3 linked regions of the Homo sapiens genome follow. The protein of the gene in region 2 purifies or fractionates together with the protein of the main gene of each other region. This does not show direct contact. Each region holds a gene or a part of one and is shown on either strand. Other genes may lie near its edges.

Region 1 (3,600 bases), on a different chromosome or scaffold from region 2:
TGGCATACAGTTTAAACTACATAAGTGTTAGCTATTATTACTATAGAAAGCAATTTTTAGGAGTTCTAATTTATATTTCCACAACTTATTAGGTCCTCTTGCACAACTCCCTTTGGAGACTACCGATCTAAACTCTGCTTGGCTTTCAAAGGTCTCCATTGTCTGATCCCATCTAACACATTCAACCTCCTTTTCCACTATCCCAGATATTCAGGTAGTCATTTCACTGCCTCTTGAATACCTCATGACTCCATTCTCACCCACTTGTCTTTGCCAGAGGACTTTCCAGATCATAACAGCCCTAAAGAGACCAGTGGGAGCACTACAATTCTCCACTGGTCTTCCAATCATCCCTCAGTACCTCAAATGATACTAATCTTTCCCTTTTATGATTTCCTGTGATACTTAATAGTCTTGCCACACTTAACTATATATAGTTGTCTTACACAGTTCTGTCCTATAGTGTGTGGATTATGTTACATACTAGACTTGCCTCTACAGAATTTACTCAAAAACTTACTTTACCAGACAATAACGCAGAGTGGTTAAGAACACAAGCTATGGTGTCAGTCAGAGGAAAGTAAGTTAAAAGAGGAAAATTAATAAAAATACCTAGAACTGGAGATTGCAGATAGCAGGTACTCAATAAATAGTGATTACCATTCACAATCTACATTACGTCATACAATTGTAATAGTTTAACAAGAACCAGCAAATGTCTTTGCAAAGACATTGTGACTACAAAACCATCCACTATAAGTGATGTGCACCACCACCTTCCCAGTGGTATGCAGGAGTTCTACCCAAGATGGAAAACAAAAAAAAAAGGATCCTCTAAACACTCCTAATTCTTGCCTCAGGCTGAACATCAAGCCTATCTGTGGTGCTTTTAAAAATTTAAGGTGCAAGGAGCTAATCTCACAAATTCTGACTCAATAGCTCTACACTCAGTCCTCATTTCTAATTTTTATAAAGCTTTACGAGTGATTCTGACATGAGCCAATTTTGAAAGCAAATGATATTCTGTAACGACTAAAATACACTAAGAAAAATACAACTTTGGGGGTTTGATTGGAATATGTTTGTGGAAGAGTAGAGGGTGAAAGGACAATGATGAAGTGTAACCGTATTTCTAATTTCCTTGCTTTTTAGTGAGTGGAAGGACAAATGTATGTTTTCAGTTTGAGGAGTGGGAGCAGATCCAATCAGAACAGAAGAGAAACTAAATAATGCTAACAAATTCTAACATAGCCTTCATTCTTCACTTTCCTTTCCACCAAGCTCCTGATTCTTCTCTCCTCAAACATCACTCTCTCCCCCAGACCCCAACGCACTTTGCCGAACACATTCTACATCCGTAGAGACGCTTTTGGGTAAAAGGATGCTTTTACAAATATTAGCTCATTTAATCTTATCAGAGACTCCCTGGTATTGTAATATTATCATTTCCATTGTGCTCATATGAATTGAGACCCATTAAGGGTTTGCACAAGGTCATAAAATCAATCTAAGAAAACCTCTCGCCACTAGCCTTTTTTCCCTCCCTTACACATTTCTCCCCCCGCCCCATACAAATATTTCTCATAACCCTAAACCCTTACAACCATATCAGAATTCTGATTCTCTCGATCCCTAACGTGTCCCCCGCATTCTCCTCTTCGCTTACAGCTGCTTAAGATCTTTTGTCCCCTCCCAAGGTGGTGCACAATTGAATATGTGAGCCGGGGAAGCGGAAAGCGAAAGGAGAAACCAGACTGAGGCAGCTCCAAACCTAGAGAAACCAGAGTGTGCCTAGGAAGTTGGCGTGACCGCTGCAGCACGGTGCCACTTCCAAAACCTTAAATCCCCGTCTCGGAATCCCGACCAGGGGCCGCCGTTCCCGGTAACACTTACGTGACATTGACAGGACCCGGACAACCCGGGATTGTGCGGCAGCCGCCATCTTTTCCCACAATCCCCCACGACAGCACTCCCGGCTGACTACGGCTGCTAAGCTGGGTCAAAACTTACCTTTCTCGCCTGTCTGCGCAAGCGCTAACCAAGAAACGACGGTTTCGGGTAGATTGTTGGTTAAGAAGAAAGCTGGGAAAGTGAAGGAGAGGGGGAAGAAAGGAAGTGAAAAGACTTTGGCTGTTGGAATCTCAGATCTGGAATAGGCTGTATAGGCTATTTATAATCTCTAATTGCCGAGGAACCTGAAGTTCAGAGTTAACCAGTGACTGACTCAGGACATGCAAAATGGCAAGACCCGAGGTAGAAGAGCTCACCTTTCCTGACTCTCAGTTTCCTGTTCCCTGAAAATGTAAGCTAAGCTGGCAGCCCTGGTGAGTCCGGAGGAAGAAGGAGGCGTAGCCCTCCGCGCTCAGGAGATCCAGGGCCCAGGAGAGAGAAAAGGGGGGACAAGAACGAGGGGAAAAGTGGAGAAGAGAAACCAAAATAGGGTGTGTCCCAAGTAAATAAATGTGCGTCGAGCCCGCCAAGCACATTCTCTCATAGGGACCCTTGCGCCTGCTGTTCGCGTTTCCTGGAATGCACACTCAGGTGTCTGCACCAGCTCAAGTCTCTGCTCAAAAGTGACCTCTTCGGATAAAACTTCTCTGACCATCCTATCCAAGGTGGTAATTATTCCACCAATTTTTGGTTTAAGTTTATATACCAAAGCACTTATCACCAACTAGCATATGAATCTAGGAGTTCTTAACCAGAAGTGTGATTCATGAGTGGGCTTCGGGAAATCTGTGAACTTCCTGAAATATTATGCAAATTTAGTGGCCATGTGTGCCATCTGAACATCTGTCTAAGGAGAAACTGCAGATGGCTCTCTCTAGCGCAATGGCTTGTAATTTTTTCTTTAACTGTGGTCACCTTTGAGAATCTGCATTGTTCTACAAAGAGCCATCTAGAAACTGAGGAAATTCCAGGTTAGACTAAGCGCTTGGATTTTAAAATACTTTATTCTGGTCAACCTCTCCAGATTGCTGGGTAGGAGATGGCAACCAGTGATCCTGTGAAACATACCTTAGGCTTATCAGAAAACCACCTAGTTTGGGGAGGGCGGGTTCTTTCTAGACTTGGTAATCCTTCCAGTGCTTTGTTTTTTCAGGAAAAGTATGTGTTTCTGGGATAGACAAAAAGGCCTGTGATGAGTAGGGATGTAGAAGTTGCTTATTACTAGGCTTGAAATCTTGGCTGTTTCCACTCTATCTTGCCCCTACTGTTTACTGAAGTGTCGCCTAACAAATTGAATTGGAAGAGAGAAAAAAACCTTGAATTTCATCGGAGAAGCTTAGTAGTAACGCTACACTGTCATATTTCTTGGCCTTATCCTATGTTCACTTAACACAATTTGCTAATACTTGATTTTGGGACCAATATGGATACTAACATACTTTCCTTGTTCGGATCAACAGATCCTGACTGTCATCAGCAACCTGCTTACTCCTGTATAACACTGCCAATTATATAATTTAAAATCTCTAAGTTAAACACTGCCTCATGTTCTCAGTTCTAGTTTCAAGGTTGCATGGTGTAATTAAAAGAACACTGACTTTTTTTTTTTTCAGAGATGGGGTCTTACTGTATTGCCCAGGCTTGTCTCAA
Region 2 (3,823 bases):
AGCTAATTTTTGTGTTTTTAATAGAGACAGGGTTTCACTATGTTGGCCAGGCTGGTCTCGAACCCCTGACCTCGTGATCCACCCGCCTCAGCCTCTCAAAGTGTTGGGAATACAGGCGTGAGCCACCGTGCCCGGCCGTGTCTGTGTGTTTCTTTTAATGACCACTATACTTCCAGTCTTCCAGGCTCAACCGTTTAGCATAGTCACGTTTTCCTCCTTCACTTCCTAAATTTATCCACAGCAGAACCCTAGACTTTGCCTCTAGAATGTTTTTAATCCACCCTCCCTTGTTATTCCCTCTGCCCTATCACCTAGCCTACTGACATTGACTCTACCTGTCTGCCTACATCCCATCTCCCTCTGGTTTAATCCATCCTTTACCTCCTTTACATCACTGCCAAAATAATGTTTACTAAGGCAGGGTTACCATCGTATCCCTTATTTTAAAACCTTCACTCCCTTATTTAAAAACCTTCAATGTCTTCTTGGTTTCCTACCAAACCAAGGATAAACTCTTCCCCTTGGCATTCAAACTTCCACATGGAATGTCTCCAAACTACCTTTCCAGTATTAATTTCAACTATTCTTCCACATGCACTGGCCAACATGGACTACACTGTACCCACATGCACCCTAAGCACCCCATTTCCATAGCTTTACTCATGCTACCTCTTTTTGGTAGAAACACTGTCTCCTTCCTCCCCCTTCACCAACCCAATGTCCTCCTTCCTTCAAGGTCTGCCTGAAATGTCCCGATGCCTGGGCCATCCCCTGAATTCTTCCTATTACCCCATCGCTCCTCTCAACCCCCATAAACGCTTGTTTTATTTCTCTCTGACGTCTCTTATCTAACCATAGTACCTAGTCATTGCATATTTGTTCTAATATCTCCCCCAAATTGCACATGGTTTGAAGGCAAGACCTCTATCTCTATTTCATCTTTCTTTTCTCTTTTTTTTTTTTTTTTTTTTTAGACAGAGTCTCGCTCTGTCACCCGTCACTCAGGCTGGAGTGTAGTGGCGCCATCTCAGCTCACTGCAAGCTCCGCCTCCCGGGTTCATGCCATTCTCCTCCCTCAGCCTCCGGAGTAGCTGGGACTACAGGCGCCCGCCACCACACCCGGCTTTTTTTTGTATTTTTAGTAGAGACGGGGTTTCACCATGTTAGCCAGGATGGTCTCGATCTCCTGACCTCGTGATCTGCCCGCCTCAGCCTCCCAAAATGCTGGGATTACAGGCGTGAGCCACCGCGCCCAGCCTTTTTTTTTTTTTTTTTTTTTTTTTTTTTTTGAGACGGAGTTTCATTCTTGTCGTCTAGGCTGAAGTGCAATGGCACGATTTCGGCTCACTGCAACTTCCGCCTCCTGGGTTCAAACAGTTCTCCTGTCTCAACCTCCCGAGTAGCTGGGATTAGAGGTGCGCGCCACCAGTCCTGGCTAATTTTTGTACTTTTAGTAGAGACAGGATTTCACCATGTTGGTCAGGCTGGTCTCGAACTCCTGACCTCAGGTGAACCTCCCACCTCAGCCTCCCAAAGTGCTGGGATTACAGGTGTAAGCCACCATGCCTGGCCCTCTATTTCATCTTTCTAGCCAAGCGGTGCCACTCAAGTATTCCATACATGTCGAAGAAATCAAGGGGAGGGCACTGTTGTGACTTATCCATCACTATATCCCCAGCACCCCACAGAGAGGTGTTAGCAAACATTCTCTGAATGAATAAAATCAACGGAATCTCAAGGTCGGTGCCTGAAAGACACAAGCCCCAGTCTCCCAAGAACCCAGCACCCCGGCCCTGCAGCCGCACCCACGATCTGGGGCTCCCTGAAGCGGCCCAGCCGCCCCGAAGCCTCCCTCACTGCTTGCTCATTCTGCTGGGCCAAGTGAAGCAGGGCGTCTTCAATCGTCTCTGTGGCGACAACTCCAAACTGAAAGTCAACGAGGGAGGCCGATCGTGGCCTCATGGGTCCGTCCATATTCACGAGCCTCTTGGGGCACCTGGACGGGTTCACTGGATCCACATACCGACCCCCTTAGCTCCTCTCCAGTCTTCTGCCACACCCTGGATTCCTCGTCCCCTTCCAATGAGTGTGTCGTCGCCTCAAGTCTGAGGAAAACCCAATTACCACCACAGCCTCGAACCCTCCACAGCTTTTTCCCGCCCCAACGGCCACGGACTCCTCAGCCAATCAGAAAGCACGTCCGCTTCTCACCTCCCGCGTCCATCCCCTGTGCCCGGGAACCGCGGCTCTGCCCCGCAAAGGGCACGCGGACTACAACTCCCAGAGTCCACTGCAGCGGCCAAGGGCTACTGTTCCCAGCGAGGCCCGCGCGGCGGCACCGCGAAGGGAGGAGTGGCAACATGGCGTCTTCGGGAGCTGGTGACCCTCTGGATTCTAAGCGTGGAGAGGCCCCGTTCGCTCAGCGTATCGACCCGACTCGGGAGAAGCTGACACCCGAGCAACTGCATTCCATGCGGCAGGCGGAGCTTGCCCAGTGGCAGAAGGTCCTACCACGGCGGCGAACCCGGAACATCGTGACCGGCCTAGGCATCGGGGCCCTGGTGTTGGCTATTTGTATCCGTCCGTGTTGTAGACTCAAGGGGACCGCATATAGGGGCAGGGGAACAGAGTGTGCAAGAGGGCTGAACCACCCGTTTAATTTTGGGGTAAAATGGGTAGTACTTTCCTTTGTTATTCCTAAGGTACTCTTTTAATTTGATTTATTAATAATAACGGAATTGGGGTTCAGGGTTTAGAAACAGCAGCGGCGGGAAGCCGGAATCACTGATTTGGGAGAGTAACAAGAGTGGTAGAGCAAATCTAGGAAAGGGGAATGTGCATATTCTGTGTGGTTTCCTGAACCTACCTCCCCAGATGGTTACACCTTCTACTCGATTTCCCAGGAGCGTTTCCTAGATGAGCTAGAAGACGAGGCCAAAGCTGCCCGAGCCCGAGCTCTGGCAAGGGCGTCAGGGTCCTAATCTGGATGGGTATTGATCATGTCCAACCTGCTGGAGCCCCTTCACATGGTGGATGATGCCCCATGACCCTGTAGAAATTGAATCCTGCTCACAACATTGTTGGCCTTCTTACTAACCTTGGACCGTGATTGAGCCCAAGAAACCAGGGACTTACGCATTTGGCCAATGTCAAAAGAACAGAACTTTGCCCACTGCACACTTGCTGTGTACAATGACTGAGCCCTTTCTTGTAGTTTGTTTCCTTGTTTGAGAGGTGTGCATGCGACCGTGGCTTTTCCCAAAGTTTCTGACTTTGTGGTTTACCCCCTTCACCTTCCAGGGACGCAGTTGTTACGAGGTTAGACGTGGCAGCTCTGTGCAGTGTTTGAGCCTACAGTGGGATACATAGGGTCAAATTGAGAATAATAAACTGAGTCATTCTCCTGGAGTCAAGTGAGTATGGAGGCTGAGAGGCAGCATATGGCACTTCATGCTGGAAAGCTTCACAAGCAGTAGCTGCAGTGGTGGCATTGCCCCAGGGAGCTGTAAATGTTTAACTAGAATTACTTTTTCCATGAGATCTTTCCACCTGATTTAAGGGAGAGATCACTGGGCAGTTTGAGACTGAACCCACGTCTTAGGGGAAGGAAGGTCACTCTTCTGTCCTCTACCCACAAGAACATACTGTAACTCTACTGCTTTTCCCATCCCCAGAGAGAGGGAGGGAGAGAGAGGTGGATGAAGGGTGAAAGACAAGCAGTCTTCATTCTTTTAACTTTCCCTGGTACCTGCCTATACAGGTCTAGGGTGGGGTCTGGAGGGGATCCTAACTTAGTCAAGTGGATCACTGACCTTGCAGTTTC
Region 3 (3,823 bases), on a different chromosome or scaffold from region 2:
TTTCTTTTTTTGAGACGGAGTCGCACTCTGTCACCCAGGCTGGAGTACAGTTGTGCGATCTCGGCTCACTGCAACCTCCACCTCGCGGGCCCAAGTGATTCTCCTGCCTCAGGCTCCAGAGTAGCGTGCGCCACCACACCCAGCTAATTTTTGTATTTTTCGTAGAGACGGGGTTTCACCATGTTGGCCAGGATGGTCTCGAACTCCCGACCTCAGGTGATCTTCCCACCTCAGCCTCCCAAAGTGCTGGGATTACAGGCATGAGCCACCATACCTGGCCATGTTTCCTTTTCTCCTTTTTTTTAAAAAATTTTATTTTTGAGACGGAGTCTAGCTCTGTCACCCAGGCTGGAGTGCAGTGGTGTGATCTCGCCTCACCGCAACCTCCACCTCCTGGGTTCAAGTGATTTCTGGCTAATGTTAGTAATTTTAATAGAGATGGGGTTTCACCATGTTGGCCAGGCTGGTCTCAAACTCCTGACCTCAAGTGATCTCCTGGCCTTGGCGGCTCAAAGTGCTAGGATTACAGGCGTGAACCACCGTGCTCGGCCTTAATTTCTTTATGGCCAGCTGTTACATAGAAAGGCAAAGAGAAAGGTTAGAGCAATATTTTTAGGCTTTATGGCTGGCTTTGGGACAAAGGGGTTCTACTTTCTAGACCCCCTCTTGGGGAGGAGGGATTCTAGTTTCTGTGGCATGCCTGGAGGGAGAGTAAGGGGCAAGAGACAAGAGGGCAGAAGGTCAGAGAGAAACTGCTTCATAGGCCTTCACTTTGTGGTATTGTTTTCTAAGCCCCAGCACTAGGTTGGTGGGAAACGGTGAGGGCAGGTGCTTTGAAAACATTTTAAAAATCCTTTTCCCCGCCAGGTTCCTACCCACTGAAGCCACACTGCTAGGGAGGAAAAAGAGAAGGGCAGATGCTGAGGCCCTGGAGAGTCGGCCTGAAGTGAGGAAGTGGCACATGAATGGCCACCTTTTCTTTCCTCAGTGTGCCCAGGGATAGAGAATGGGAGACAGCAAGACAGAATACAATGTCTCATTAACTCTGGGCAGCATCCAGATACTTCAGGCCTGGGAGAGGTGTCCTTGACTGCCCAGGGGCTCAAAGTTAGGATGTAGCTAGTGAGATAAGATGCAACAACTGTGGAACTTGATCAACCCTATTTCAGAGCCATCGTGGATTCAGGAGCCCTCCTGTAGGAGATGGGAAACATTCAGGTGAGAGTCCTCAGAACTGGGGATGTGGCGAAAAGATCCTTGACTGCCAGCAGCAACCTAATTTCTGAGCCTCTTTCCTAATCTGTGAAATGAAGTAGTTTAACTCATTTTTTATGCAAGCTGGTTTGTGATATAAGAATATGTACTAATAAAATCCCTTACGCATAGGCCTTTTTTTTTTTTGAGATGGAGTTTTGATCTTGTTGCCCAGGCTGGAGTGCAATGGTGCGATCTCAACTCACTGCAACCTCTGCCTCCTGGGTTCCAGCAATTCTCCTGCCTCAGCCTCCCAAATAGCTGGGATTACAGGCATGCGCCACCACACCTGGCTAATTTTGCATTTTTAGTAGAGACAGGGGTTTCTCCATGTTGGTCAGGCTGGTCTCGAACTCCCGACCTCAGGTGATCCGCCCGCCTTGGGCTCCCAAAGTGCTAGGATTACAGGCGTGAGCAACCGCGTCCAGCGGCATTCTTTCCCCCATTCGCTGTTTTATTTTATGCCACAATGAGAAGGCGGGGCTAAGCAAAGTAGGTTTTTGTTTTGTTTGGTTTTTTTGAGACGGAGTTTCGCTCTTGTTGCCCAGGCTGGAGTGCAATGGCACCATCTCGGCTCACCGCAACCTCCTCCTCCTGGGTTCAAGCGATTCTCCTGCCTCAGCCTCCCGAGTAGCTGGGATTGCGGGCATGCGTTGCGCCACCACGCCTGGCTAATTTTGTATTTTTAGTAGAGACGGGGGTTCCTCCATGTTGCCCAGGCTGGTCTTGAACTCCCGACCGCAGGTGATCCGCCCGCCTCGGCCTCCCAAAAGTGCTGGGATTACAGGCATGAGCCACAGCGCCCGGGCGCAAAGTACGTATTTTTTATTATAGTTTGTTGTTATTGCTGTCATTCCTATTTTGAGGTGATTAAGTGCCCTCCTGGGCCTGACTCGAACAAGATCACGGTCGGTTGCTCCTCCCTCGCCTCCATTCCTACTTACAGGATGGCAGCTGCACGTCACCTGACCAGAGACAAGGCGGGACGCGAGGCTAACAGTTTGTCCTCAGCGCGCCGCCGTAGCCCCCGCCGCCGCCGGCCGCGCGGTGGCTCCTCCCGCCCACGCGCCAGAGTCGCAGTGGGCGGGCCTACGTGCTCCGCCCGCTGTGAGCCTGTCCGGCCCCCGCCCGCTCCGGAGCAACCCGCGAGCTTACACCGGCTTCTCTCTGTCCTCAGCCCGCGCGCCGCCATCGCCGTCATGCTGGGCGCCGCTCTCCGCCGCTGCGCTGTGGCCGCAACCACCCGGGCCGACCCTCGAGGCCTCCTGCACTCCGCCCGGACCCCCGGCCCCGCCGTGGGTAAGGCCCCTGCTTGCCACTGCCCGCGCCCTCGTGTCCTTGCGGTGACCTGGGTCCCCGCTGCCACTCCGGGGCGGGCTCTCCCCGGCCTAGCCCTTGCCCTACCCTGGTTACTGAACCCGGTGACCGCGGGCCGCCCTGCCCGCCGCCTCGAGTAGTGGAGGACCTGAAAGCGCGCCCCCGGGGCCTCCCCCCGCGCAACTTCCTGGCTGTGCCACCGCGGACAGGTCAGATGTGGACCTGCTGTGGGCGCCGAGGAGGGGACGCAGCGCTCCCCTTCGGTTCCCGGGCCATGACCCTGCCCCAGCGCCGACCCTGCGGCCACCTGACCGAGAGTGGCCGCCGCCGGCCTGCAGCGCCTCGGCGAAGGTGACATTGAGCCTCCGGGCACGCCGCTTGGGGTCCGAGGACACAATATACTTCCGTATGGGACACACGATTATACTTTTCAATCAGGCATTTCTCGGTTAGCGATTAGTGTGTCACCTTCACAGCCTTTTCCATCATTTTTAGGGTCTGCTGTGCCACGTTCTAATTCTTCCACGTTTAAAATAGATGGAAGTGTGTGGTTGTTTCCTGATCTCCGGAAGATAGCCAGAGTTTTGATAGGGCTTATGATAAAAATATCACTCTTTTGAAAACTGAATGTCACAGACACAGGAATACTGGGTTTTACAAGCATAGGAACGCTTCGTGTTTTTTCCCCTTTGTAATAGAAGCCTGATTGCTGGAGTATGAGACGTGCTTCTGATTTTTGTCTATTTTCCTTCCCTTTATATGTGTGCTGGGAGGTTTTGAGTCCACCACCATAGAATAATTACAGTAATTGCACTTCGATCTTGGTCCGTGAAATTTAGCTTCTATGCATGCATATTATATTTTATTTTTGAACCTGCATCACTGGCAACTATGCATGCGTATTTAAACATAAGAACTCAGAAACTCGTTTCAGGGTATGCTGAAGTTAAAAATTAAAAAAAGAACTCAGCCGGGCGCGGTGGCTCATGCCTGTAATCCCAGCACTTTGGTAGGCCGAGGCGGGCGGATCACCTGAGGTCAGGAGTTCAAGACCAGCCTGGCCAACATGGTGAAACCCTGTCTGTACTAAAAATACAAAAAATTTAGCTGGGTGTGGTGGTGGGCGCCTGTAATCCCAGCTACTCGGGAGGCTGAAGCACAAGAATCGCTTGAACCTGAGAGGCGGAGGTTGCAGTGAGCCGAAATCGCGCCATTGCACTCCAGCCTGGCCGACAGAGCGAGACTCCGTCTC

Evidence for each region.
Region 1: the proteins of COA3 (region 2) and NDUFA9 purify together in Homo sapiens (affinity purification with western blotting; 2 studies listed by BioGRID, with this or other methods). This does not show direct contact.
Region 3: the proteins of COA3 (region 2) and COX5A purify together in Homo sapiens (affinity purification with western blotting; 3 studies listed by BioGRID and IntAct, with this or other methods). This does not show direct contact.

Annotation. Positions count from the first base shown.
Region 1 is NC_000012.12:4,647,469-4,651,068, reverse strand, and holds the start of NDUFA9 (NADH dehydrogenase [ubiquinone] 1 alpha subcomplex subunit 9, mitochondrial precursor), read right to left. Parts: upstream 1,956-3,600; 5' UTR 1,943-1,955; coding exon 1,894-1,942; intron 1-1,893. UniProt on the Homo sapiens protein: Accessory subunit of the mitochondrial membrane respiratory chain NADH dehydrogenase (Complex I), that is believed not to be involved in catalysis. Required for proper complex I assembly.
Region 2 is NC_000017.11:42,797,219-42,801,041, reverse strand, and holds COA3 (cytochrome c oxidase assembly factor 3 homolog, mitochondrial), read left to right. Parts: upstream 1-2,337; 5' UTR 2,338-2,360; coding exon 2,361-2,574; intron 2,575-2,874; coding exon 2,875-2,981; 3' UTR 2,982-3,417; downstream 3,418-3,823. Other genes in the region: CNTD1 (cyclin N-terminal domain-containing protein 1), read right to left, coding at 1,806-1,974. UniProt on the Homo sapiens protein: Core component of the MITRAC (mitochondrial translation regulation assembly intermediate of cytochrome c oxidase complex) complex, that regulates cytochrome c oxidase assembly.
Region 3 is NC_000015.10:74,936,645-74,940,467, reverse strand, and holds the start of COX5A (cytochrome c oxidase subunit 5A, mitochondrial precursor), read left to right. Parts: upstream 1-2,394; 5' UTR 2,395-2,453; coding exon 2,454-2,553; intron 2,554-3,823. UniProt on the Homo sapiens protein: Component of the cytochrome c oxidase, the last enzyme in the mitochondrial electron transport chain which drives oxidative phosphorylation.